Linked DNA regions of Homo sapiens. The protein of the gene in region 2 purifies or fractionates together with the protein of the main gene of each other region. This does not show direct contact. Each region holds a gene or a part of one and is shown on either strand. Other genes may lie near its edges.

Region 1 (3,500 bases), on a different chromosome or scaffold from region 2:
TACATCGTCTTCCCTCTGTCCCTATCTAAATTTTCTCTTCTTACAACAACATATTGGATCAGAGCCCAACTTGGAGACCTCATGTTAGCTTAATCATCTCTTTAAAGACCCTATCACCAAATGTAGACATGTTCAGAGGTTACTGGGAGTTAGGACTTAAACAAATGAATTGGGGAGGGTGGGGCCAGGGGGACACAGTTCAGCCCGTAACACTAGTGTGTTACTGTTTCTGATACTGCATACTGGGAAGTTTCAGGCTTTTTAATCTTTGCCAACCTGGTAAGTGAAATATGCTATTACCGATGATAGACATCACAGGGCAAGGACTGCTGTAATGCCCTTAAGACATTCCCCAGTTTTTACTTTTGACATTATTCGAATCTCAGGCATCAAAAAACATTTATGTTTATTGGTCTGATAACCTATTCCTAGTAGTTTATCATCAAGAAAAATACTTTTTTTTAAAAAAAAAAAGAGCTATATACCTAAATATTAGATATTGAAATGTTATGGGGAATTTTTTTTTTTTTGAGACAGAGTTTCACTCTCGTCACCCAGGCTGGAGTGCAATGGTGCGATCTCTGCTCACTGCACCCTCTGCCTCCCGGGTTCAAGCGATTCTCCTGCCTAAGCCTCCGAATAGCTGGGATTAGATGCCTACCAGCTCCCCCAGCTAATTTTGTATTTTTAGTAGAGACAGGGTTTCACCATGTTGGCCAGGCTGGTCACGAACTCCTGACCTCAGGTGATCCATCCGCCTTGGCCTCCCAAAGTGCTGGGATTACAGGCGTGAGCCGCTATGCCTGGCCTAAAAAAATTTTTTTTTAAATTAGAATAACCTAAACACCTAACAGTATAACATGAGGGAGGAAGTAAGTACAGAGCTTCTTCTCACTGGAATTTATGCATCTTTTAAAAACACTTCAGGCCGGGCGCTGTGGCTCGCACTTGTAATCCCAGTACTTTGGGAGGCTGAAGCGGGCAGATCACGAGGTCAAGAGATCGAGACTATCCTGGCCAACATGGTGAAACCCTGTCTCTACTAAAAATACAAAACTTAGCCGGGCATGGTGGCACCCGCCTGTAGTCGCAGCCACTCTGGAGGCTGAGGCAGGAGAATCTCTTGAACCCCGGAGTCAGAGGTTGCAGTGAGCCGAGATCACGCCACTGCACTCCAGCCTGGTGACAGAGCGAGACTCCATTTCAAAAAAAAAAAACAAACTTCATGCTGAGAAGTCTGAAGAAAAAAAAGATTTTTAAGAGGAAAATGTGTAAGAAAAATACTTCAGCTCTGTTACAAAATCAAAATAGAAAAAAACACAAAATTGGTGTTTCCTTTTAATGATAACTACATCAGACACCTAAGAATTGGGATAAAGAGCAGAGGGAAATGTAGACAAGTTGGAATCAGTCATGTTTGTTTTCAAAACTTCCTTTTAAATTGTTATGTTTATTATTATGACCACATTTATTTATGTTTTCTCCAGGAAACACTGATGGGAAAGTATGGGGAAGACTCCAAGCTTATCTATGACCTGAAGGACCAGGGCGGGGAGCTCCTGTCCCTTCGCTATGACCTCACTGTATCTTTCTAAACTTGGGCTCTTGAGACTTTGGATGGATTGGCACTCACTTGGCTCAGGTTTAAGAATGGTAGAGTAGGTAGGATCAAATATGAGGCCTTTGGCGATTAGGGGAATTATTTCTCTAAACCAGGAGTGGAACTTTGGCTAAACAGAGCATACACATCCTTAGAAATCTTCTGAATCCTGAGTGAGACCTCAGCTTGATGTCAGGGCCCAGTTCCAACTCTACAGTCATCCCCTGGCTCCAGAATACCTCTCCCCTGCCCTGTCCAGTGAACAAAATTCTTCTTAATGGACTAGCAACACATTTCCCTTGTCTCCAAGCTACACAGAGAATCATCTGCTTAGAAATCCCATATGGGGGCCTTTTTCTGGTCGCCTTTTTCTGGTCTGTGGCCAACCTGCCCAGCCCCTTGCCATGCTCAAAAAAGTCCAGTCAACACTACAAAAGGGAAAGGTGCCTTAATCTTTTTTGAGCCTTCAGCTACCTCATGTGGTAGCACAGCTGATGCTTTCTGATGTTTGTAAGTGCTATTAATCTTATGGGTGGCAGTTTTACCCACATAGGGAGGGGTTAGACCCCAGCTTCTGTTGGTGATGATAATCAACTTGCAGACAGTGATAGGAGGGGCTTTCTCCTTAACTCTTTGTCATCAGGTTCCTTTTGCTCGGTATTTGGCAATGAATAAACTGACCAACATTAAACGCTACCACATAGCAAAGGTATATCGGCGGGATAACCCAGCCATGACCCGTGGCCGATACCGGGAATTCTACCAGTGTGTGAGTGTTGGGAAACCGTGGGGCAGGATGAGTTACTTGGGGCTCTCTCAAGCCAGCAGAATCTATTGAGTACTCACGGTGTCCTGAGCAAATTGGATGACCCAGATAATGCTCTTAGGGTTTCTATGGTGGTTTTTTTGTTTGTTTTTTGTTTTTTTGAGACGGAGTCTCGCTCTGTTGCCCAAGCTGGAGTGCAGTGGTGCAGTCTTGGCTCACTGCAACCTCTGCCTCCTGGGTTCAAACGATTCTTCTGCCTCAGCCACCTGAGTAGCTGGGATTACAGGCGCCTGCCACTATGCCCGGCTAATTTTTTGTATTTTTAGTAGAGACGGGGTTTTACCATGTTGGCCAGGCTGGTCTCGAACTCCTGGTCTCATGATCCGCCTGCCTCGGCCTCCCAAAGTGCTGGGATTACAGGCGTGAGCCACCGCACCCAGCCTCTTCTATGGTGTTTTCATGCAGATTTCACAAAATCCCTGTGGTGGGGGAGGAGAATAAAGTCTCTTCATTTTACATATGAGTAAACTTGATACCCAGCCCATGAAGAGATCATAGGGATAAGAAAGGCAAAGTCAGGACTAGAACTCTTGGTCCAGTGCTCTTTATTTTAAACCACAGTGATAGGATCACAGCAGAGAATAAGGAAATTAGCTTTGATACATCAAATCATCCAGACTGATGCCAGGGCTTCTGGATGAATAGGGAAAATGGCTAAGCACTAAAGCCATATAATCACCCCATCCAGTAGGAGGAGTTAAGAAGATGATGAAGTAGAAAATGAAGGAATAGCCCAGTAGATGGAAAGGAAACCAAAACTGGTGAGAAGCCCAAAGATGCCGGGGTTTACCTCTGGGCTGATGATCAGAAAATGAAAGAGAAATTCTATGCTTGAGTGCAACCAGGCCTTCCTAGAGGACAGAGCTCCCAGAGTCCCCCCTTCAGAAAGGTGAATCCCTGAAGACCGCTGGCTAACCCTCTCCCTGCAGGATTTTGACATTGCTGGGAACTTTGATCCCATGATCCCTGATGCAGAGTGCCTGAAGATCATGTGCGAGATCCTGAGTTCACTTCAGATAGGCGACTTCCTGGTCAAGGTCAGAGCTGACAAGGCTGGGAGGGCAAAGTTGGGCC
Region 2 (3,500 bases):
TGCCATTACAATTCTTAAATTCTTTTTTGCTATATTTACTGACTTCTTTGGCATGTAAAATCATATTTCATATTTAATCTTCAATCATATTTACATTTCTCAGAGTTAAGAACTGTGTCTACTGCTTCTCTGTATTTTCTCACAATGCCCAGTACAAGTTCTAAAGAATATCTGCTGATTAACTTCAACTTGAATGTAAGTATCTATATAATAGGATATTATCCTTGTTAATGCTTCTGTGTAATGAATATTAAGGTTAAGAGTATCACAAATAATTTTATAGCTAGAAAGAAGTTAGTAAATTAATCAGATTTTTTAAAGAGACAGAGTCTTGTTATGTTGCCCAGGCTGGCCTTGAACTCTTAGGCTCAAGATCTTCCTGCTTCAGCCTCCTGAGTAGCTGGGACTACAGGCATGCACCACCATGCCCAGGAATCTGTAAATTTATTGATGATTAACATGAATGAAATGGACAGAGAAGACAGGACCTTAAAAAAATCTTTTAGTTCACATTTCTATTTTGAGAAGTCTGATTCTCGCATGATTTATGAGAAAGTGATATGCTAAATCAGTTTGCCACAGCCATAGTATCTAACCAAAATGATTTGATGTGGGATTCTACACTATTTAAAGTTTAAATATCCCAATTGTGTACAGATTCAAATCATCTTTGATTAAACCCAAATCCTTCAGTTACTTTCCAAAGTAAAATATACATAAAGAGAATTACAGGCTGTGAGTGGTGGCTCATGCCTATAATCCTAACACTTCGGGAGGCTGAGGTGGGAGGTTCACTTGAGCTCAAGAGTTCAAGATCAGCCTGGCAACACAGTGAGACCTCGTCACTTTTTTTTTTAAAATCAAAAAAAAAAAAAAAGAGAATTATAGGCTGGGTGTGGTTGTGACTCATGCCTGTAATCTCAACACTATGGGAAGCCAAAGCAGGAGGATCACTTGAGTACAAGAGTTTGAGGACAGCCTGGGCAACATGGCAAGACCCCATCTCTACCAAAAAAAAAAAAAAAAAAAAAAGTAGCTAGGCATCAGGATGTGTACCTGTAGCCTCTGCTACTTGGGGGGCTGGGGTGAGAGGATTGCTTGAGCCTAGGAGTTTGAGGCTGTAGTGAGCCATGATTATGCATGCCACTGCACTCCAGCTTGGGAGACAGACTGAGAGATCCTTCCCCCATTCCCCCACACAAAAGAGACAATTACAATTCACAAAGAAAAATGACCTCATCTGCTCAATGGAAGATGTTAACTAACTTTATTTTTTTTGACTACCTGTCACTAGCATTTCCATCTGCTCAGAATTTGACTCATCCAATAACTTCAACTATTGATAACCCTGGTGAGTTCAGAAATGAGGCAGACAGCCTTTTGGCAACAAAAGTAAATAGCATAAATACCATGTTAAACTCAACGACTGTAGTCTTTAGGAGACTCAACTTTATTCTGAGCCCACTGTTTAAAAGAACCAATTCTACATATTCATCATAGCTACAGAAAAAAATAATAAAAGCTGTAAAAGAAAGAATTCTAGACCGGGTGTGGTGGCTCATGCCTATAATCCTAGCACTTTGGGAGGCCAAGGCAGTTGGATTGCTTGAACTCAGGAGTTCGAGATCAGCCTGGCCAACATGGCAAAACCCCGTCTCTATCAAAAATACAAAAATTAGCCAGGTGTGGTGGTGCATGCCTGTGGTCCCAGCTACTAGGGAGGCTGAGGTGGGGAGGTTGGGAGGACTGCTGGAGCCTGGGAGGCGGAGGTTGCAGTGAGCTGAGATCGCGCCACTGCATTCCAGCCCGGGTGACAGAGTAAGAGCCCATCGCCAAAAAAAAAAAAAAAATCTGCAGTTGTTTACCTAATTTCTAAATCCATGCAGATTAAGGGGCAGAAAGGGACTTTACAGCTAGACACACTGACAACTGTGAGTTTTAAACAGTGGGCTTTCTTTTAAACAGTGGGCTTTCAACTGACTGCTGTTAAGGCAAAGATAGGAAAACTATGAAAAACAAAAACCTTAAAATATAACAGTATGGGCTACCTAGTGATGAGGCAAATGGTATCACCCAGTTGAACATTCTCTCCCTCATTCTGGTACAGCCAGTAAAATAACCTTCGCAGTGGTGATTCTCAGACAATAATAAAAATTCAATTGTGAGGCAGGGCATGGTGGCTCATGCCTGTAATCCCAGCACTCTGGGAGGCCGAAGAGAATGGATTACTTGAGGTCAGGAGTTCGAGACCAGCCTGGCCAACATGGTGAAACCCCATCTCTACCAAAAATTCAAAAATTAGCTGGGCATGGTGGCGTGCACCTGTAATCCCAGCTACTCGGGAGGCTGAGGCAAGAGAACTGCTTGAACACAGGGGTGGAGGTTGCAGTGAGTCAAGATTACGCCACTGCACTGCAGCCTGGGCAACAGAGAGAGACCATGTCTCAAACAAGAACAAAACCAAGGCCAGGTGTGATGGCTCACACCTGTAATCCCAGAAATTTGGGAGGCTGAGGCGGGTAGATCACCTGAGGTCAGGAGTTTGAGACCAGCCTGACCATTATGGTGAAACCCCGTCTCTACTAAAAATATAAAAATTAATTGGGCATGGTGGTGTGCACCTGTAGCCCCAGCTACTTGGGCGGCTAAGACAGGAGAATCGTTTGAACCTGGGAGGTAGAGGCTGCTGTGAGCTGAGATCTCGCCACTGCACTCCAGCCTGGGTGACAGAGCAAGATTCTATCTCAAAAACAAAAACAAAAACAATTATATTCAAAATATAGTTAGCCTTCCGTATCTGCAGTTTCCACATCTGCAGATTCAACCAATCACACACAGATAAAAAATACTGGGGGGAAAAAGCCATAAAAAATCAAGCAAATTTTAGGCAAGGCGCAGTGGCTCATGCCTGTAATCCCAGCACTTTGGGAGGCTGAGGTCAGAAGACTGCTGGAGACCAGGAGTTTGAGACCAGCCTGGGTAATACAGTGATACTCTTGTGTCTACAAAAAATAATAAACAAAATAAGCCAAGCACAATTGTGCATTCCTACAGTTCCAGCTATTCAGGAGGCTGAGGTGGGAGGATCACTTGAGCCCAGGAGTTTGAGACTGCAGTGAGCTATGTAACTGTGCCACTGTACTGCAGCCTGGGTGACAGAGGGAGATCCTGTCTATAAAAAAAAAATAAAATAAAATTTATGGTTGGGCGTGGTGGCTCAAGCCTGTAATCCCAGCACTTGGGGAGGCTGAGGTGAGATCATGCCACTGCACTATAGCCTGGGTGACAGAGCAAGACTCTGTCTCCAAAAAAAAATAAAATAAAATAATGAATAAAATTTAGGCTGGGCGCGGTGGCTCGAGGCTGTAATCCCAGCACTGTGGGAGGCTGAGGCAGGCGGATCACCTGAGATCAGGAGTTCGAGACCAGCCTGGTCAACATGATGAAACCACGTCTCTACTAAAAATACAAAAATTAGCCCGGTGTGGTGGTACACGTCT

The links.
Region 1: the proteins of PAPOLG (region 2) and HARS1 fractionate together in Homo sapiens (co-fractionation; one large-scale study listed by BioGRID). This does not show direct contact.

Annotation. Positions count from the first base shown.
Region 1 is NC_000005.10:140,677,871-140,681,370, reverse strand, and holds part of HARS1 (histidine--tRNA ligase, cytoplasmic), read left to right. Parts: intron 1-1,487; coding exon 1,488-1,583; intron 1,584-2,243; coding exon 2,244-2,369; intron 2,370-3,355; coding exon 3,356-3,463; intron 3,464-3,500. UniProt on the Homo sapiens protein: Catalyzes the ATP-dependent ligation of histidine to the 3'-end of its cognate tRNA, via the formation of an aminoacyl-adenylate intermediate (His-AMP). Plays a role in axon guidance.
Region 2 is NC_000002.12:60,762,768-60,766,267, reverse strand, and holds part of PAPOLG (poly(A) polymerase gamma), read right to left. Parts: intron 1-3,500. UniProt on the Homo sapiens protein: Responsible for the post-transcriptional adenylation of the 3'-terminal of mRNA precursors and several small RNAs including signal recognition particle (SRP) RNA, nuclear 7SK RNA, U2 small nuclear RNA, and ribosomal 5S RNA.